Linked DNA regions of Homo sapiens: all the other regions are reported to be linked to region 1. The links are microRNA targets in miRTarBase. Many come from high-throughput screens and were not tested one by one. Region 1 holds a microRNA gene; each other region holds the end of a gene's coding sequence.

Region 1 (7,118 bases):
GCTGGGTGTGGTGGCATGTGCCTGTAATCCCAGCTATTTGGGAGGCTGGAGCAGGAGAATCACTTGAACCCGGAAGGCGGAGACTGCAGTGAGCCGAGATCACACCACTGCACTCCAGCCTGGAAACAGAGCAAGACTCGTCTCAAAAAAAAAAAAAAAAAAAAGGCCGGGCGCCGTGGCTCACACCTGTAATCCCAGCACTTTGGGAGGCCAAGGCGGGTGGATCACGAGGTCAGGAGATTGAGACCATCCTGGCTAACACGGTGAAACCTCGTCTCTACTAAAAATACAAAAAATTAGCTGGGCGTGGTGGCGGGCACCTGTAGTCCCAACTACTTGGGAGGCTGAGGCAGGAGAATGGTGTGAACCCGGGAGGTGGAGCTTGCAGTGAGCCGAGATGGCGCCACTGCACTCCAGCCTGGGCGACAGAGCGAGACTGTCTCAAAAACAACAACAACAACAAAACTAAAGCTAAAGCTCTTTGCAGGCCTCCTGTTCTGAGAGTGTCCGGTATAAGAGCTGCTGACAGCTTTCTGACATGGGCCGTGGCAGCACCCAGACCTAGCTCCCCCAGCAGATAGTGGGAAGCTCGAGTTGCACAAAGATCAAAGCTCATTTCAAGGTCAGATTCCTGCTGTAGGAGCAGCTGAGCAATGAAGGAAATACATCAGCCCCCTCAGCTATATTCTTAGCCCAGGGCCTACAACCTAGTGAGTTAAGGGCTCAGAAAGTATGAAGCACTTTTCAATGTAACAGTTTATGTGCATCTTTCATTACCAGCATGGAACCAACCCTGCCCCATATCAAGTCCCACTCTGGGCAATTCATAAAACTGTTCTGACTCAAGAGAACAGGTTTTGTTGAAAGTGAAAGGAAGGACAGTTGCAAGAGTCAGAAGAGACCTTGGAGAGGCCAAGAGAGAAAAAGCCATGAGAGGGTAAATCACAGAGGCAAAGAGTTATTAACACCTCCCATTTGCATAGTGCTAGACTGTTTTCAAAACACATGACCCCAAGACCAGGACTCCCACGCCCAAACCTCCCAACCCACAACCATCACACAGATCGCCATTTTCCTTATTTCTCAGTATGAATGTCATTCCAGAAATAGCTGAGTCTCTGAAAGGCCTCCATCCTAAACAATGTGGCCTTTGCCCATATGCTTCGCCCACCAGCTCAAACATGCCCAAAGCCCAGCGTGGGTCTTGCCCCCTGGGCTTCAACTTCTCCCCCAGCTGGTGGCTTTGAAATGGGCTTGCTGGTCAGGCTAACTTTGCCTATGATTCATGCGGAAAGCAAAACAGATGGAGACAACTATGTGCCAGCATGGAGCTCACAAAGGCGATGAAGGTGACGTGGGCGGCTCTCTCAACAGGTAATCCTGGGGGTATTTTAGCTAGAGCAAAGCCTGTGTCTGGCCACTAGTGGGCACAAACTGCTCAGTAAGTGGAAGGAATCTTCATGTCAAGGTATTCCAGCTAACTTTGATACAGTTATTCAATGAACTGCATTCCTAATTAAGAGGCTTTGTGGCAGGCACAGAGCTAGTTTGTCAGGGTCTAGTTCTGCACTTTGACATCCATATTCTTGCTCTGCTAGTGAGTTTTTGGACTTCTAAAGGGAATAACACGCAGCCACTGAGGTACCTGAGGTTACTGGATAATAGTAAGCTGTCTGAGGCTTTTTTATACCCTTGTTGGAAAACTCTAGAAACAGGGAAACAGAGTAGGCTTTGTTTCTCTAAGAATTGCTCTTGGAAGACTTACTCCACCAGATACAAAAGAAAAAGGAGGGGAGTGCATTGTACGATGAAGGATATCAATCTCCCTCCTTGGTAATTCACAATGTACCATGAATGATCAAAGCCTGCTTAACTTTCAAAACTTAGTGTCTTTCAAACGGATTTATCAGGAGACTTGTTTTTGTTTTTGTTTTTTAAAAGAAGAGCTCACTTAAAAACACTGAGTTTGGCCATAGAAAATGACGGGAAAGGCAGTTGCAATTGCAGTCATGAACTGCATCAGTGGAGAATGAACAGGGAATAATTCGCTTAGTTTTAAGATCTTCAGGTTTAGGAGGAATTCTCCCCATAGAAATAATAGAGTTCTCCTCCTTCTTTCCCCTAAAGTATGAAAAAAGAACACGCATTATGGAAATGAAGAGCTAGAACAAAAGAGCTGCTACCCCCACCAGTGACAGTAAACCAATGCCCGTTTACAAGCACAAAACCCATCTCTGCTCCCTCTGCCTACTGCAATTCTACCCCATTGCCAAGGCCCAGCTCAGAGGCCACCTCCTTTTAGGATCCCTCGATGCCACAATTACATCCTGAACATGAACAGAGGCTCCGGGACCCATGCAATGTGCAGGTCCTACCTCAACTTCAGGTCCTACCTCAATGCCTGCTCTGCTTTTAGGAAACCAGGGTACCTGCCCCAGGTTACCTAATTTGTTACAGGCAGACCCGGTGCAGAAAAACAAGGATTCCCTGATGCCCAGACTACTAGTTTTTCCACTACAACACACTGGGGGTGCAGAGAAGTCAATGATATGCTTGCAATCTAATGAATTAAATTATTCTACCACCATTCTTCAGACTTAGAATCCACAAAAACTAGAGAGGGTGGAAGGAGAATGGTGTGGCAAAGAGAGAGCGGCTTCCCTTATTCTCTGCTCATCAGCCTGCCAAGCCAAACCACTGACCAAACTTCAGAAGGGCAAGAAGAGGCCCTGCTTATGCAGCTGGGACCAGCACCAGAGAAGCCACTGAAAGAAGGAAGGAAAGAAAAACTGCAATCGTCAACTGTTTGAAGAGTCATCGTGTAGAGGAGAGACGGGGGTCACCCTGCAGTCATTGTCCAGGAGGCACTGTGGAGATTTAAATTCTTTAAGGACGTGCCAAGCAACTTGATAAAACCCAAGTCCAGCACATCAGGCATGAATGAAGGCAACTAGAAGTGAATGGACAAAAGAGGGGCAGTGTTGGGTTTAACAAGGTAATTTCTTTTTTTGAGACGGAGTCTCACTCTGTCGCTCAGGCTGGCGTGCAGTGGTGCGATCTCGGCTCACTGCAAGCTCCGCCTCCCGGGTTCACGCCATTCTCCTGCCTCAGCCTCCCGAGTAGCTGGGACTACAGGCACCGGCCACCACGCCCGGCTAATTTTGTTTTGTATTTTTAGTAGAGACAGGGTTTCACCGTGTTAGCCAGGATGGTCTCAATCTCCTGACCTTGTAATCCGCCCGCCTCAGCCTCCCAAAGTGCTGGGATTATAGGCGTGAGCCACCGCGCCCAGCCGAGGTAATTTCTTAAGTGACAATATCTCCTGGCATTCCTCCCTCATCACTGGCTGTTCATCCCCAGTCTCCTCTCCTTCCTGTACCCTCGTTAACCCCTGGCATGCCCAAGACTTAGCTCTGAACCCTGTTCCCCTTTTCTGCCTTCTGCTCTCAACTCCTCCCCAAGTAACTGTATTCAGCACCACAACATTGAATACCCTTCGGTATAGAGGAATGACTCTTGACTTTGAATTTCCAGCCCAGACCTCTCCCCTAAGCCAAAGACTTCTAAATTGAAGTGATTTGCTGACCTCTCTGATGGTCAAAATATAAATCCTGATTTCTACACCTTCCCGCAAATCTTCTGTTCCTCCTCCAGTCTCCCCATCTCAGTCCAAGATTCAGTTACACACCAGTTGCTCAAGCCCAAAACGTAGAGTCATCTAGAATCATTCTTCCCTAACTCCCTACATCTAACCCATCAGCAAACCCTGTCATGAGACCTGTTTTCTTCTCTACTTCCCCTCCCTAGCTAAGCCACCAGCTACCTCCTAGAGTTCTTGTGAGGATTAAATGCATTGCTTTTCAAAGAATGCCTGGCACTTACGTGAGCTGTTTGTATTCTTAACATCATTGTCATTGTCATCATTGTCATCTCAGTGTCATCATCATGTCCAGTCTGGACTATGACCACAAACTCCTCACTGGTCCCCAGTTTCCACTCTTGCCTCTCCCCAGAATTCATTCTCAACAGCCAGAATGAGCTTACAAAACATGAATCAAATCATGACACTCTTCTGCTTAAAACCCTTCAATGATGTCCCAACTGTCCTTCTCAGTACCACAGCCTGTGAGGCACCAGCGATCCTGCTCCCATCCCTCTCTCCCGCATTCCCCACCCTCCTTTCTTCAGCTAACTCAGGGCCTTGGTTCTTCCCTTTACCTCCTAGAATTTTCTTCCCATGGTTCTTCCTATAACTGGTCCTTCCCTGTCTTCTAAATCTCAGACCACATCACTATGGAAGGAAGAGGCCTTCCCTGAGCAGCTCATTCCTCCAGTGATGACTTTCCATTGGATCACCCTATTTGTTTCCTGCAGAGCATGTTCCACTACCCATAGTGATGCATGTATTGTGTATTGCCTGTTTCCTCCAACTCCTTGTGAGCTGCACAATGGCAGGGACCTGCTCTTTCTTGTTCATCTCTGTGCACCCCATTTCTAGAACAGTGCCCAGTACATAGGACAGGCTCAATAGAGTTGAAGAACACATGAATGGATCTCACTATTAGCTCTTCAAAAACAAAAGAGGCTCTCTTGAAGGTAATAAGTTCCCCATCAGTGGTAGGATGAACATGTGGTAGGCATATTGCAGAGGGGTCTGTGGCTCGATGGGATAGGAAGGAGGGATGGGCCAGATGACTCCGGGTCCCTGCCAGTGTTGGGGGCCACTTGTGTGTGGATGACTGCACACTCATGTGGCCCCCAGCACTGGCAGGGACCTGACCACAGTCAGAAGGCTTCATCCCAGACAGCCTTCTCTCGGGCACCAAAGATCAACATCCACAACCTCAGGCTGCACCATGGCCAGTCCCTGCTCCTGAAATGCAAGGGATGTTTTCTTGGTGCTGGTGAAATCTTGGGGATACAATTGAAGTTTTTTTAAAGCAAAGACTATAGATTCCAGGTCATACAGTTCAGACACAGGTTCAAACAAACATTTCATACTAATTCCTGGGTATTGGCATCAGAGAAACCCTAAGGGTTGAAATCCTGGCATGTTGACAACACATTCCGTCCTCTGTACCTCCCTTGTACCACCAGGGTCTCAGCATCTCATAAGAGCCTGTAAAATCCAGAGCCATTCCTTGGGTAGAGATTATGGGTTGGCTGAGGGAGCCACGAAGATTTTAAAATGTAAAACATGAACCCATAAATGCAGAAGGTCTCCCGTGTTTTCTAAAATCTGGCCAAAAGCTGAGCCACAGACAAGGAAATTGTCTGGTGTCCTTGCCAAAATGACAGTGTCACCAAATTGATAAACAAGTCTGGGATCGTTTTGAAGACAGCGATGATAGGAGACCACCAAGGGCTCAGGTTGGGGGCTGCTGAGACTGGCAAGATTTAGTTTCTCTAATTTTCAACCCAAAGCATTGATCTAATTCCTCACACAACCTATTGATAGTCATGAGTTTGCTGTTGCTGCTGCTGCTGCTGCTGCTGCTGCTGCTGCTGCTGTTTAAATGGAAAAGAAGAGTAGTAAGTGGTCATCTTCTCAGCGTCTGGTGCTGGTCCCGCCCACACACTGTGGCAGAGCAGACCCACCTGTTGTCACTGGGAAATGAGGGGCTGCAGGTACTGCCCTTAGACAATGGAGGTGGCCAAGGACGTTTGGGGACAGATTACAGGAAAGCTCAACAATTCCCTTCATGCTTTGGTGTTGAGCACTGGCCTCCTTTTTAAAAACAAAAGTGATTCAAAAAGGGGCACATTTTTTGTGCCTAACACCTCAGCATGAAAAAGTTTATCAACTACCTTTTCTTCTGAGACAAGAGAGGACTTTGTGAGCAGGGACAGGCCCTGAGAGACAGATTTTACTGAAGACAAACTGCCTGGGTCCTGCCTCATCACTGAAGCTGATGAAGACCAGCCAGGGGCCAGGGCAAGCCAGGACTGTGCCCTTCTAGCTCTTGGGCTCCCAAGCCGCCTGTGGCTTAATTCCAGTATTCTGACCCATTCTGCTACACGTCAGGTCCACACAAATTAAACAAAAAGCAGGGGAATGCTTGTGAGAACTTGGACTTGATATTTGGATCTTGGAGACTTCAAAACAAAAAGCACTGGTTCATTCAATAGCAGGGCAAATGTTTTGCCTGAATCCTTTGGGTCAGTAGATTTTAAACTCACCCATAGGGTCTTGGGGAGGAGGCTTGGCACACCCCTCCCCCTCACCAGAGCCTTCCAGATTGTATGAGTTTGCAAACTAAAGCTCCAGGAACTGGCCTCATTCAAAGCGACGCCATGGACCCTGCGTGCCATGCCCCAGGGCTCCACTCTCTTAATCAAGGCAGAGGGAACCTACTTACTACTCAAAACCAATTTTCTAACATAAAATGTTCACAGTTATTTTCTGATTGTGAAAATAAAAGATCTCAATGAGGAAAACAGGTAAGGCAGCAAAAGAAAGAAAACAGCCAAAGTGATAAGAATCCCGTCACCCAAAATAATCACTGAAAATATACCGATGCATTTCTACCTTGTACAATTTCTGATATATTCTGCCTTATAGAGGCTTCTGGACTGTCACTCCAACTTGGAATCAAATGGACCACTGAGAAACCCGTGGAAGACAGCAGGTCTAAGGAAATCACAAAGATTAGAAATGCATCCATGTGCACCCAACTCCTTCCTAGTGGGGGTGGGGGGTACCTTTGAGATGGTCTGTGATTCTACTTACCCCTCACTCTCTGTTCCCACTAGTCTGCCCTGCCCTCTGTCCCTCAACTACGCCAAGCTCCTTCCCTCCCCAGCGATCTTGCACTTGACGGTCCTTCTGTATGGAACCTCCCCGAGATGTTCATATGGCTGGCTCCTGGCCACTCCTCAAGGAGACCTTCCTTCACCACTGCAATCCCTCTTTATCCCATTACCCTGTCTTATATAGTTCTTACCATTGCCCCCAAATTCTCCATGTTTACTGACTGGTTTGTCCAGTAAAACATAAGCTCTTGTTCACTCTTGTAACCTTAGCACCTGCAATAGTCTCTGGTACACGAGAGTTGTTCAAGAAATAGTCCTGCATGAAAGATCAGAAGAGAAATGGAGAGACTCCCGAAGTGGGAAGT
Region 2 (7,118 bases), not on the chromosome of region 1:
CTTTGTGATCCTCTCCCTGCTGCTGGTGCCCATGTACTACATCCCCGCCGGCTCCTTCAGCGGAAACCCTCGTGGGACACTGGAGGATGCATTGGACGCCTTCTGCCAGGTGGGCCAGCAGCCGCTCATTGCCGTGGCACTGCTGGGCAACATCAGCAGCATTGCCTTCTTCAACTTCGCAGGCATCAGCGTCACCAAGGAACTGAGCGCCACCACCCGCATGGTGTTGGACAGCTTGCGCACCGTTGTCATCTGGGCACTGAGCCTGGCACTGGGCTGGGAGGCCTTCCATGCACTGCAGATCCTTGGCTTCCTCATACTCCTTATAGGCACTGCCCTCTACAATGGGCTACACCGTCCGCTGCTGGGCCGCCTGTCCAGGGGCCGGCCCCTGGCAGAGGAGAGCGAGCAGGAGAGACTGCTGGGTGGCACCCGCACTCCCATCAATGATGCCAGCTGAGGTTCCCTGGAGGCTTCTACTGCCACCCGGGTGCTCCTTCTCCCTGAGACTGAGGCCACACAGGCTGGTGGGCCCCGAATGCCCTATCCCCAAGGCCTCACCCTGTCCCCTCCCTGCAGAACCCCCAGGGCAGCTGCTGCCACAGAAGATAACAACACCCAAGTCCTCTTTTTCTCACTACCACCTGCAGGGTGGTGTTACCCAGCCCCCACAAGCCTGAGTGCAGTGGCAGACCTCAGCTCTCTGGACCCCTCCTACAGCACTAGAGCTAAATCATGAAGTTGAATTGTAGGAATTTACCACCGTAGTGTATCTGAATCATAAACTAGATTATCATAGTTATCTAGTTTATGAGTCATAAGCTAGATTTGATTCTTCAAAGAAGAAAAGTCAGTGAGCAAATTTAAACCAGAACTAAGCATTATATTTTCTTTTTTTTTTTTTGAGACAGAGTCTCGCTCTGTCGCCCAGGCTGGAGTGCAGTGGCACGATCTCGGCGGCTCACTACAACCTCTGCCTCCCAGGTTCAAATGATTCTCCTGCCTCAGCCTCCCGAGTAGCTGGGATTACAGGTGCATAACACACCTGGGTAACTTTTATAGAGATGGGGTTTCACCATGTTGGCCAGGCTGGTCTCAAACTCCTGACCTCAGGTGATCTGCCTGCCTCGGCCTCCCAAAGTGCTGGGATTACAGGCGTGAGACACCACACCCAGCCATAACTAAGCATTATGTTTTCTAAAACTTCTAAGATCCTCCCTAAACCCGTCTGGAGACATGGGTTTTAGCCCAGACTCTGCCTCAAACTCATTGTAGCTCCCAGCACATTACCCAGTTGCTCTGGGCCTTGGTGTTATGCTCTGGGAAGTAGATGTTGATGCTGTGGCCTTAGTGCCTTCTGGCCCCAGCATTCCATGGGCCTGTGATCTTGACCAACCTGAGAAAACAGTAACAGCCCATCCACTGGAAATACCCCTCTGCCCACAGCACCACCCTTCTGTGCTGTTTTTTTTGTTGTTTGTTTGTTTCTTCTTTTTGAGACAGAGTCTTGCTCTGTTGCCACGCTGGAGTGCAGTGGTGTGATCTCGGCTCACTGCAACCTCCCGCTCCCAGGTTCAAGCAAGTCCCCTGAGTAGCTGGGACTACAGGCGTGTGCCACCACATCCGGCTAATTTTTTGCATTCTTTAATAGAGACGGGGTTTTGCCATGTTGGCCAGGATGGTCTCAATCTCCTGACCTCATGATCCACCTGCCTCAGCCTCCCAAAGTGCTGGGGTTACAGGCATGAGCCACCACGCCCAGCCTTTTTTTTTTTTTTTTTTTTTTCTTGAGAGACAGGGTCTTGCTCTGTCACCCAGGCACAGCTTACTGCAGCCTTGAACTCCTGGGATCAATCAGTCCTCCTGCCTCAGCCTCCCGAGTAGCTAAGACTAACAGGTATGTACCACCATGCCTGGTTTATTGTTTTATTTTTTTGGCAGAGATGGGTCTCACTGTGTTGCCCAGGCTGATCTCAAACTCCTGGCCTCAAGCGATCCTCCCATCTCAGCCTCCCAAAGTGCTGGGATTACAGACCTGAGCCACCACACCTGGGCAACAGAGTGAAACCTGTCCCTGTTTTCCTGCTCTTACTCTCACCTCTGAGGCCTCCTCTGCCTGGAAGAGATTACAGGGAAATTCCAGGCAGCCCTTGTCAATTGTTTTTATGAATTCTTTACCTGTTCCTTTTAAAGACAAGGAAACTGAGGCCCAAAGTTCTAAGTTGTTTGGCAAATGGAGTCTCCTACCCTCAGCTCCTGCAAGGACCTGGGGGACCCCCAGGTCCAGCAGCCACATGATTCTGCAGCAGACAGGGACCTAGAGCACATCTGGATCTCAGCCCCACCCCTGGCAACCTGCCTGCCTAGAGAACTCCCAAGATGACAGACTAAGTAGGATTCTGCCATTTAGAATAATTCTGGTATCCTGGGCGTTGCGTTAAGTTGCTTAACTTTCATTCTGTCTTACGATAGTCTTCAGAGGTGGGAACAGATGAAGAAACCATGCCCCAGAGAAGGTTAAGTGACTTCCTCTTTATGGAGCCAGTGTTCCAACCTAGGTTTGCCTGATACCAGACCTGTGGCCCCACCTCCCATGCAGGTCTCTGTGGGGTCTTTGGGATGGATCTCCTAGGGCTGGGCTGGAAGCCTCATGTACTGTTGTCTTCTAGGTAACCACCCTGAAGAGAAGGGGTGGCATCAGGAACCGCAGGGAACCAAGCAGCCTTTGGTCCAGTGCTGCTCCTTGGAACAGTTGAGTGTGGCCTCAAACCATTCTCCTGGGTAGCTCAGTCATAAAACACCGAATGCCTGCCTCAAAATAGCCTCTGAGGGAAGGGAGCTGTTGACAAGTGAAGCCCTCAGGTTGTGTGGGATTCCAGCAGGTTATTACAGCTTGTGGGGGGAGGGAGGGTCCATTCCACCAGCTTTGAATCCCAGGGTCCCCTCAGCTTCACTGGGCCACAGTGTCTGTCCCAGGAAGAAGCAAATGGACAGTGAGGATGATGGAGAGACTACAGCTGCCTTGTCTAAAACCTGGGATCTTAAAAGTGTTATTTTGGCTTTTATTTTTTAAAAAAAGAAAAGGAAAATTGGCAATTGTATTAATCCATTCTCGAATTGCTGTAAAGAAATACCTGAGACTGGGTAATTTAATTTATAAAGAAAAGAGGTTTAATTGGCTCACAGTTCTGCAGGCTATACAGGAAGCATAGTAGCTTCTGCTTCTGGGGAGGCCTCAGGAAACTTACAATCATAGTGGAAAGGCAAAGGGGAAGCAGACACATCTTATGTGGCCAGAGTAGGAGCAAGGGGGCGCAGGAGGAGGTGCCACACACGTTTTAAACACCCAGATCTCACAAGAACACTCAAGAGGACAGTACCAAGTGGAATGCTGTTAAACCATTCATGAGAAATGCACCCCCATGATCCAGTCACCTCCCACTAGGCCCCACCTCCAAGATTGGGGATTACATTTCAATATGAGATTTGGGTGGGGACACACATCCAAACTATATCAGCAGTACTGGACATTTTTCATGAGAGAGAAGGGGCACAAGAGGATGTCTGGAGCTAGCCTCTAGAATGTTGGTGTGGAAAATCTCTCCAATGTTTGAAAAGCATACCAATTACCTAGTCCTCCATTCATTGTTCAAATGAAGAAACCCAAAAAGCAGAAGTAACTTCCCAAGGGTCACACAGTCAGTTAACAGGCAAAAGCCAGATGTCCTGGTTCTCAATCCTCGCCTGTCCCATTCTGCCACAGATACTGCAGCCAGAGGCCAGGCATGGTGGCTCACGCCTGTAATCCCAGCACTTTGGGAGGCCGAGGTGGGTGGTTCACCTGAGGTCAGAAGTTCGAGACCAGCCTGGCCAGCATGGCAAAACCCTGTCTCTAGTAAACATACAAAAATTAGCTGGGCATGGTGGCACAAGCCTGTAATCTCAGCTACTCAGGAGGCTGAGGCAGGAGAATCACTTGAACCCGGGAGGCAGAGTTTGCAGTGAGCCAAGATCACGCCACTGCACTCCAGCCTGGGCAACAGTGAGACTCAGTCTCAAAAAAGAAAAAAAAGCTTAAAAATAAAGATATAAACCGGGTGCGGTGGCTCACGCCTGTAATCCCAGCACTTTGGGAGGCTGAGGTGGGTGGATCACGAGGTCAGGAGATCGAGACCATCCTGGCTAACACGGTGAAACCCCGTCTCTACTAAAAGTACAAAAAATTAGCCGGGCATGGTGGCGGGGGCCTGTAGTCCCAGCTACTTGGGAGGCTGAGGCAGGAGAATGGTGTGAACCTGGGAGGCGGAGCTTGCAGTGAGCCGAGATCGGGCCACTGCACTCTAGCCTGGGCGACAGAGTGAGACTCCGTCTCAAAAAAAAAAAAAAAAAAAAAAAGATATAAAGAAAAAATGTTTTTGTATACTTGCAGTGTGTGTTTTAAGCTAAGTGTTATTACAAGAGTCAAATTTTACAGTTCAAAAGCTTATAAAGTTAAAACGTTACCATTAAGCTAAGATTAATTTATTATTGAAGAAGGAAAATTTTTCTTTTTAGAGACAGAGTCTTGATCTGTTGCTGTCACTGGGGTGCAGTGGCATGATCCTATCTCACTGTAGCCTTAAACTCCTGGGCTCAAGTGATCCTCCTGCCTCAGCCTCCCGAGTAGCTGGCACTACAGGCATGCACCACCGTGCCCAGCTAATTGTTTTTATTTCCTGCGGAGATGGGGTCTCACCACGTTGCCCAGACTGATCTCGAACTACTGGGCTCAAACAATGCTCCTGCCTTGGCCTTCCAAAATTTTAGGATTACAGGGGTGAGCCAGTGTACCCAGCCCATTTTTTATACTGTTTTTTTACTGTGCCTTTTCTAGGTTACATATGTTAGATACACAAATACCATTGCATTACAGTTGCCTACAGTATTCAGTACAGGAACATGCTGCACAGGTTTGTCGCCTAGGAGCAATAGGCTATACCATATAGCCAAGGTGTGTGATACACTATACCATCCAGGTTTGTGTAAGTACACTTTATGATTGCACAATGACAAAATCGTCTAACAACACATTTCGCAGAGCATATCCCCATTGTTAAGCATGGGAACTGTATAATGCCTTTATTATATATACATGACTATATAATAAGGGCTATATGATAAGCCAGAGTTACCATGGCACCACAAAATGTTTTTTAAAAAATCAGCCAAGTGGCAGGGTGCGGTGGCTCACGCCTGTAATCTCAGCACTTTGGGCGTGGTGGCACACGCCTGTAGTCCTAGCTACTTGGAAGGCTGAGGCAGGGGAATCGCTTGAACCCGGGAGGCAGAGGTTGCAGTGAGTGGTGGTCGCACCACTGCACTCCAGCCTGGTGACAAAGTAAGACTCCATCTCAAAAAAAAAAAAAAAAAAAATTAGCCAAGTGTGATGGTACATTCCTGTTAGTCCCAGCTACTCAGGAGGCTGAAGTGGGAGGATTGCATGAGTCCAGCAGTTCAAGGCTGCAGTTAGCTGTGATTGCACCACTATACTCCAGCCTAGACAATAGTGCAAGACCCGGTTGTGGGGCGGGGTTAATATATATATATATATATATACACACACACACACAACATAGAATTTACCATTTTAACCAGTTTTAAGTGTACAGTTCAGTGGCGTTAAGCACGTTCACAGTGTTGTGCAACCATCACCACCATCCATATCCAGAATTTTTCATCTTCTCAAACTAAAACTCCCCACCTATTAAATACTAACTCCCCATTCCTCCCTTACTCACTGGCAACCACCATTTTACTTTCTGTCTCTATGAGTTCCGTTATTCCAGGTACCTCATACAGTATTTGTCCTTTTTTTTTTTTTTTTTTGGAGACAGAGTCTTGCTCTATTGCCCAGGCTGGAGTGCAGTGGCACAATCTCAGCTCACTGCAACCTTCCCCTCCTAGGTTCAAGCAATTCTCCTGCCTCAGCCTCCCGAGTAGCTGGGACTACAGGCCCGTGCCACCACGCCCGGCTAATTTTTTGTATTTTTAGTAGAAGCGGGTTTTCACCAGGTTAGCCGGGATGGTCTCGATCTCCTGACCTCATGATCCACTGGCCTCAGCCTCCCAAAGTGCTGGGATTATACAGGCATGAGCCACCACACCCGGCCTTGTCCTTTTTTTTTTTCTTTTTTTTTGAGAGAGGTGCCACTCTGTCGCCCAGGCTGGAGTGCAGTGCCACAATCATGGCTCAGTTCAGCCTCAACCTCCTGGACTCGAGCGATTCTCCCACCTCAGCCTCCTGAGTAGCTGGGGCGACAGGCATACATCTGCACGCCCGGGCTAATTTGTGTGTGTGTGTATCTTTGGTAGAGGTGGGGTTTCTTTCTTCCTTCTCCTCCTTCTCCTTCCCCTTCTCTTTTTTTTTTTTTTTTTTTTTTGAGACAGAGTCTCACTCTTGTCGCCTAGGCTGGAGTGCCGTGGCATGATTTCGGCTCACTGCAACCTCCGCCTTTCAGGTTCAAGCAACTCTGCCTCAGCCTCCTGAGTAGCTGGGATTACAGGCGTGAGCCACAGCACCTGGCAAATTTTTATATTTTTAGTAGAGACGGGGTATCGCCATGTTGGCCATGCTGGTCTTGAACTCCTGACCTCGGGTGATCTGCCTGCCTCGGCCTCCCAGAGTGCTGGGTTTACAGGCGTGAGCCACCACGCTCGGCAAGATGGAGTTTCGCCATGTTGGCCAGGTTGGACTCGAACTCGAACTCAGTGGTTCCGAACAACTTGGCCTCCCAAAGCGCTGGGATTACAGGCATGAACCACCGCACCCCAGCCCAGCATTTGTCCCTTGGTGGACTGCTTTATTTCACTTAGCATAACGTCCTCAAGGTTCATCTATGTTGCAGCAGGTGTCAGAATTCCCTTCCTTTTAAAGGCTGAATAACATTGTGGTATACACCCCATTTTGTTTATCCGTTCATCTGTTGGTGTGTATTCAGGCTGTTTCTGCCTTCGGGCTGTTGTGAAGAATGCCGCTATCAACATGGGTGTGAGAATATCTGTTCAAGTCCCTGGCTATATTTAAATTCTTTTGGATATTTAGCCAGAAGTGGAATTACTGGATCATCTGGTAATTCTAT
Region 3 (7,118 bases), not on the chromosome of region 1:
CACTAGCACTGCCCAAAGATGCTTGGCAGCTGTCAGGTAGCACTTCTGCTACCTGGGCCCCTTCAAGGGGTAGGCCCCAAGAAAAAAGAAGGCAACTCACCAGCCAGAACTTCTCATCCAGCCCTCCTGGCATAGAAGGAACATCTTTTATTCTTTGTGGGTATTGCCAAGTGGGGGACAGCCACTTGTTTCCTCCTCAGGGGAAACAGAGCTCCAAACTTTACTGTCACTGGCTCCCTAGAACAAGCCTCAGCTTCTCAACCTGAGCAAAAAAGTGGTTAAAGCAGATGGTGTCTGAAAACTATCAACTACCAAATCCCAGCACCCAATAACTCAGATGTTTATTTTGGAAGTCACTGCCTTCCTCCAAAAGATTCTGATTCAGGACAGATGGTGCAGAGACTCTTGGAGAGTGAATTCCCCAATGTGTTTAGAGGATGGTCAGGAGAGGATAGTGCATTTGCTTTCTTTCTGGGAATTTTATTAGCTGCTATAGGAACAGCCTTTGCTAAAGGCCACCTTCCCTTGGCTGGAAACCTGAGGAGGTGGCCGGCAGCTGCGCCCCCTGGTGGCCATTCTGTGGTCAGGCTGGTCCTGGGAGATGAAACTTCACCTTCACAGTAGACAAGAGCCCAAAACGCGGAGCACGGAAAGTGCCTGCTGCACATAGCAGGGCAGGGGCAGAGCCTGCAAACTGGGGAGGCCTCCCAGCCCCCAGGGCATTGTTGTGACTGCTATTTTGGTTGGGGGTTAGTACTAAAGACTATTTGAGCCCTTGCGCCTGTCTAGGCCTCACTGGACAAGATGACCTGACTTTCACTTCTTTCAACAACCCCCTCCCATTATGTCAGGCCCACATCACACTGTCTAGCAAAGGATCCATAACTCGGAATTTTTCACATAAGTGCAAAGACACATGTTAATAAACACTTTAGATTTATTCTGCCATTTCTGAAGCCACCTCATTTAATTTATACATAGGATATAAATGGCTATACATTTTTACACACTTTTATACAAGTTTAGGTTGTACTACTGAGTTTGTTAAAATGTACCCATTATTTACTCAAAATATTTATTGTTACAAGAAAACCGTAAGAAGCTTGTGTAACATGAACAGCAAGTATTGAAAACGAATATGTAAAGTAAATGGTTTTGCCCTGACTAAATCAGCCTCAGTATTTTATGCTTTTAGTAGAAAAGCCCATTAAACAAAATAGAATCCTGGGGGATCAAATCATATGAATGATTCATGAAATAACACTTCTGAAGCAACCCCAGAATCATATAAATGTAAGGGTTAAAGGTCATATGTACTAAGCATGGGTCAGAGGAATAGAATGGATTTGTTAATTTTACCCTAAATAAAAGGCGCTTGTGGGCAACAGCTCTGCCATCAATACACATGGGCAGATGTTTCCGAATCCAGCCATTCCCAGATTTCACTGACATGCCCTTTTCCACAGGCTCCCTGCTGATGAGATTTCCCCAGCAGCAGAAGTTTGACATCACTGCTCCCGGATGGGAGAATCAGAGCTCTCCTCATTTGGGTCAGGGGTGGCTGGCTCACGAGGTTTGGTCCAACCAGCAGAACCAGCTCCTTGGATCCTGGAATAAACCAAACATCAATGGTACCATGCGCTCTGTGCCCAGGGAGTGAAAGGCAGGTCCAGGGTGGGAAGAAGAGGGGCTGCTACCTTTTGGAGTGAAAAAAATGAGGTTTACACTGTAGTATAACAAAATGCCTTTTTGTAAAGGCCAGAAGAAATGGCTGTGCTGTGCTGCCTGAAGCAGAAAAACCTTCATGTACCAGGTGAATGTAAAGCCTTTCTCCTCCCACACACAATGGACTCACCCAGTATTACCCTCCACTACCACTTTTGACCCTCATAACAGCACCCTGGCGGGGGGGCAGATTGATGTTATCACCATTTACCAGATGAGGAAACTGAGGCCTGATGGGCAGTGATTTGTGCACTGCGACATAGGACTCAGTGAAGAGCCTAGCCAGCTGACGGTCAGCTGACTGGTGCACTCTTTCCCTCACCTTCTCTCTCAAGGGCACAGCTACACTCTTTCTCCACCATTATTAACACTCACAGGGCACAGGTAGAGCGTCCCCAGACCTGTGCAATATTCTACACGAAAACATTTGGAATGTGAGCAATGTCTGAACAGGGGCTTGCCAGGCACATCTGATCACCATAAATGCTCCCACCCCTGCCTGTCCTCACTTGTGCTGCACTATGCAAGCAAGCAGCAGGTTCTCAGAAGGCCACTGTCCTGCATGTCACAATGAGTGGCCAACTCCTTCACAGAACAGCAAATAGCAGCCCTGGCTACAAGGTGCAGTGTGCAACCCCCATATGCCAAGGGGCAGCTGCTATCTTCCAGCAGAGAGAGAACCCCCAGCTCTGCTCCCTACCTATGCCCTGCTTCCTGTGCCTCACACAGCCAGCCTTGCTGGCCTGCTGGCTATTGTCTCTGACTCTGAGCTGTGCTGACCACCAAGTGTTACTCCTCTCCAAGACTTGACTCCCAGGCATGGGTGGGAGAGTTGAACCTCAATGCAATCTGCTCCCACTCTGAAGCTCGTCTACCCACCCCATTTGTTACAATTAAAGATGGTTTTCTCATCCCTCCAGAGACTCCAGTTTCAGACTCTGTCTCCAGAGCTGGAATGTATAGGGCAGAGGTAGAAAGAGGCAGGAGAGTTGGAGAACAAGAGCACCTAGAAAAGAACAGAGGAGCTCAAGCTCATTTAATCAAAATGCTTAAATGTTTTAATTCCAGCATTCTCCAGAGTTCACAGAAAAGAGGGATGCAAGCCCAAAAAGCAAAAGCAGGAGCTTATGGTCACATGCCTCCAGCTGCAGGCAGTGGGGCCTCTGGTACTGAGAGGGAATGCCACCCGAATATGCCCCAGCTGTCTCCACCCAGGAAAAGGAAAGCCAGGTACACTTCTCATCACAGTAAGACTAGCCTAACAGGGGAAAACAGATTTACATGTTTCGTTCATTAGCATATTAGGGAAGGGGAAACCTTTTGGGCTCTGGCCCCGTGGTTGGGAAACCCTTCCTAAGAGCATGGAGCCACACTCTGGCCTTGATACAGTAGATGGGACTTAACACACTCTGATGCTCAAGGCCTTGCAGCATCTGATACCAGAAGGCACCTCTAAAGTTTTGTTTTCAACATTATTTCATCTATTCCCAGATCTAGTCCAGTGATGTCAGCTGCACAGGTAGCATTTAACTACTGGGAAAACAAAAGTGCTACAACAACAGTGAGTCCATGGTGGAGTGAGGATAACTCCTGGGATTTGGAACCAGTTTGCTGGTATCAAGGATCACACAAGAGGCTATAAACCTCCAACCCTGAACCAAGTCAAACCTAAGCCTGGGGATTTCCCTCGGATGAAATCACCAGAACTTCTTTCCTATTTTCAGTCTCTTCCTTCAGTGAGCTGAGGATTCTTTTAGCTAGCTGGATTTCAGTCAAACAATGTTTTTGTGGTCATTACTTGTACTGTTTTTCTAGTGCATCTTTTCCCTTTTGTTTGCAAAAGTCAATCTCACCCCATGTAGATGTTAACTGATATCCACACATTCGACCTGGTGTGGATAACATCTCTGGTAGTGCCTCGGTGGTCAGGAAGCATTACCAGGAAGGACTCATCTTCAAGGACCGTTTCTTTACTGCCTGCTGAATATGGATCATAGGCTCAGATGCCCAAAGCACCTGGGGTACAGGTCTACATGGCAACCCAATGCCACATAGGAAAAGAAAACAGTCCATTTTTAAGCCGTTCTTACCGACTTTTTTTTTTTTTTTTTTTGAGACGGAGTCTTGCTTTGTCACCAGGCTGGAGTGCAGTGGCTCGATCTCGGCTCACTGCAACCTCCACCTCCCGGGTTCAAGAGATTCTCCTGCCTCAGCCTCCTGAGTAGCTGGGGCTACAGGCACAAGCCACCGTGCCCAGCTAATTTTTGTATTTTTAGTAGAGATGGGGTTTCACCATGTTAGCCAGGATGGTCTCGATCTCTTGACCTCGTGATCTGCCCACCTCAGCTTCCCAAAGTGTTATTGACTTTTAAAGCTTTTTTGTTCTTCTCATTTAAAACATTTTACCTCCCCTCCTTAACTTCCCATTCTATTTCACCATCTCTTCAAAATTGTCTCCCAGAAAAACTGAAAATTCACCTGCTGGGTATGCAGAAAATTATGCAGATGTGAAATCAGTGTAGAGACAACTTTGGAGTTTATGTCTGAGTATGCTGCCAATATAATTTTCATATTCAGACTTTTTAGAGACAGGGTTTCACTCTGTCATGCAGGCTGGGGTGCAGTGGTGTGATTATAGCTCATGGAAGCCTCAAACTCCTGGACTCAAGGGATCCTCCTGCCTCAGACTCCCAAAGTGCTGGGATTACAGGCATGTGCCATCACATCCGGCTAATTTTTTTTTTTGTAGAGATGAATCTTACTATGTTGTCCAGGCTGGTCTCAAACTACTGGCCTCAACCGAGTCTCCTGCTTTGGCCTTCCAAAGTGCTGGGAATACAGGCATGAGCCATCATGCCTGGCCCATATCCAAATATTTTATGTTTGGTCAAAAATAGAAAATTCTATTATAAAAAATAAAGTTACTATGGCAACATTTTCCCAACATAGTTCCCAGTATATAAACTTATTTTTCTTAAAATGATAACAAGGTAGCTCAATAACAATACAATACCAGTGATAACCAAATATAATTGAATTTTTCTAAAACTACATTCTTACATTCCCTATCCACTCAACTCTTGTAATGGTTTTCCACTTTTAAAAACTATCAAAATAGGATTTTTAAAAATTTATCAAGACCACATAATGCAGTTGAACACTCAAAGTGTTCCATGCAACTGTGGTTGAACTATTCAGATTCCAGACTTCTACCAAGAACAATCCAAAGAGCAAACTCCCAAAATGACCTCCTGCGTGGTACAAAACAAGCCAGGCTGAAATTTCGGGAAACCTAAGGGATCTTATCCAGAACCATATTTTGGAAAACTGTGATCAATCAATTTTTTGACAGTGAAAGAGAGTAACTTTCCAGAGTATGTGTTAATTATATCTCTATCAAGCTTTAAAAAGTTAACAGATACTTAACTCTTGTTCATAAAAAATGAGGCCCTCAAGCTAATTAAGATGACTGGGAAAGGTGCAGAGGAGTAATTAATTTTGGAGGCGCTCTGGGAACAGGTACACAGGGTACAGTAGTCATCATCATTAAAACAACAGGCACTCAGCTCTACTGAAAAGGCTGATGACAGCAGCCCCTCCCAAGCGGATCTGTAAAGTGCCACTGAATCCATGTTCATTCACCTACTCCAGGTTGTGGTCAATTGTAAGTAATCCTGAAATTCTCATTTCTGCTCATGCTGACAAACTTATCATCTAGAAGTACTGGTTATTCAATTAATTTTTAAAATATTCGGATATACCCTGCAAATAAATATAAAACATCTCTGTACCCAAACAGTCCCACCACTATAAAAGGTTACATATAAATTAAATAAACTCAGATTTCTTAACCATTTTCTCAGCTTAAGTTTGCCCTCACCCTAAATGAAGTCCAATTTATATCCAAAATATAATTAAATATTCCAAAGGTATATCGAACCTAAGATATTGAAAAAATGTAAACAAAATTTATCTAGCTTACATTTATGAACCATATTTTTAGGTTTTTAATTCATCCTGTACTGACCCTCTGAAAAAAAAAACTAATCAAGTTATGTTTAGACTGAAAGCTGATTTGGATTTTAAAGTGGTTCCTTGGAGACAACTCTCAATGACTAAAACCAGTGTTATTGAATCAAGTGGTTTACTGTATCATTCAACTTAAAAGACCAAAATATTTCCTTTCTCTCTTCCAATAAAGCTCTTTCTGGATGAGCCCCCAGATCCAGCTGTCCTAGGTAAACGTGCTGAACTGGCTGGAGATCCTGCAGTAATGCTTGGCACAGAACCAAGGCTGGGTATCAAGCAACCTCATGACTTCCACTGCAACTGTTTAACATCCCCAATTCCTGGTTTTTCAGTCCAGTTGGCTGAAAAGGATGGAAACTGGAGTGTAAAGTAGAGAAGCAGAAAGAGAAACATAGATTGATCCTCAAAAGAAAATCAAAGAATCCATTCATCACAGTGTCATCCTCATACTCCACAGTCAGACTGCTTCTCCTGAAGCTGCCTTGTTAGTATCTGATATGAAGACAGAAAAGCCACTCCTATGTGGAAAAGGATTTGCCAGAGGTTCCTCAGCCCGTGCAGGTACATGTTGCCCAGGCAAATAAAGAGCAGCATAAGCACCACCTTCATAGTCCTGGCTGGACTGTAGAACAGGTACAAATAACACTGAAATGAGACCAGAAGAGGAATTCCAATCAGAGATAAAATGGCCACTAGATCATATGCAAAATTCACCTCCCACAGCTTCCATGAAGAGTGTCATTTCTCTCACATTAGCTGATTAAACTGAATTCATTACAGTAAAGCGTGGACCCACTGGTTAGGCTGCTAATTATTGGACGAAAGTGAGGATTTGGAAGATTAAAGGAAAGTGAAATAGATGTCACAGGAAGAATCAGTGCATGGCACATCTGAAAGAAGTTAAAGAAATAGACAGAAATGACCAGGCTGTTGGCAGTAGAGAAAGAAGAGCTGCACATAAGCTGCAGACAGCCAGGCTGCAGACAGGGGACCCTAACGTGACTGACTGGCCCCCCAGTGAAGTTTTTCTTCAGGGAGCCAGGACAGGCAAGCAAGCTGGTGAGAGAAAGCCATGCTTTTACTATTTTGGTTTCTCCTGAGCCACGACTACATTGAGCACCACTCTTCCCTTGGGCACCCTCCTTATCATGTCTTCCAAAGCATCTCTGAGTCAGGGAAAGGTCTCACAGCAGGGAGAGTGACTGGTATTTTGTGTATGACTATCACACATAAAAGGGGCCATTCTTGTTCTGCAAAAGGTGGAAACGGCATTTTGGTTCAATGCTTTGTTTTTTTTTTTTAAAAAAAGGACATCACTGAACATGGATCAATCTGACAAAGGTTCAATCTACAGAGGGAGGGAG

What was found. The annotated mature microRNA hsa-miR-4731-5p reads UGCUGGGGGCCACAUGAGUGUG and lies in region 1 at 4,743-4,764, opposite strand. An mRNA with a match to its seed (bases 2 to 7 or 8) in the 3' UTR can be bound and repressed. Matches are read on the target gene's strand: a 7mer-m8 pairs with bases 2 to 8, a 7mer-A1 pairs with bases 2 to 7 and ends in A, and an 8mer does both.
Region 2: the mRNA of SLC35F6 is a reported target of hsa-miR-4731-5p. Seed matches in the 3' UTR shown: 7mer-A1 at 1,278-1,284 and 8mer at 1,362-1,369.
Region 3: the mRNA of SEC22C is a reported target of hsa-miR-4731-5p. Seed matches in the 3' UTR shown: 7mer-A1 at 4,553-4,559, 7mer-A1 at 4,422-4,428, 7mer-m8 at 4,338-4,344, 7mer-A1 at 4,205-4,211 and 7mer-m8 at 3,950-3,956.

The regions. Positions count from the first base shown.
Region 1 is chr17:15,246,924-15,254,041 of GRCh38, forward strand. MIR4731 (microRNA 4731) reads right to left here and starts at 4,773; the gene lies at 4,704-4,773. All of the region lies in intron 3 of PMP22 (peripheral myelin protein 22), which reads right to left.
Region 2 is chr2:26,778,052-26,785,169 of GRCh38, forward strand. SLC35F6 (solute carrier family 35 member F6) reads left to right here. Exons shown (of 6, transcript NM_017877.4): 6 at 1-3,180. The coding sequence ends at 460. Among named protein-coding and RNA genes, the nearest start is that of CENPA, 4.4 kb to the right of the region's middle. RefSeq lists an enhancer at 6,406-7,118.
Region 3 is chr3:42,547,050-42,554,167 of GRCh38, forward strand. It overlaps SEC22C (SEC22 homolog C, vesicle trafficking protein), which reads right to left. Exons shown (of 7, transcript NM_032970.4): 7 at 920-6,399. The coding sequence ends at 6,199. Among named protein-coding and RNA genes, the nearest start is that of VIPR1-AS1, 18 kb to the left of the region's middle.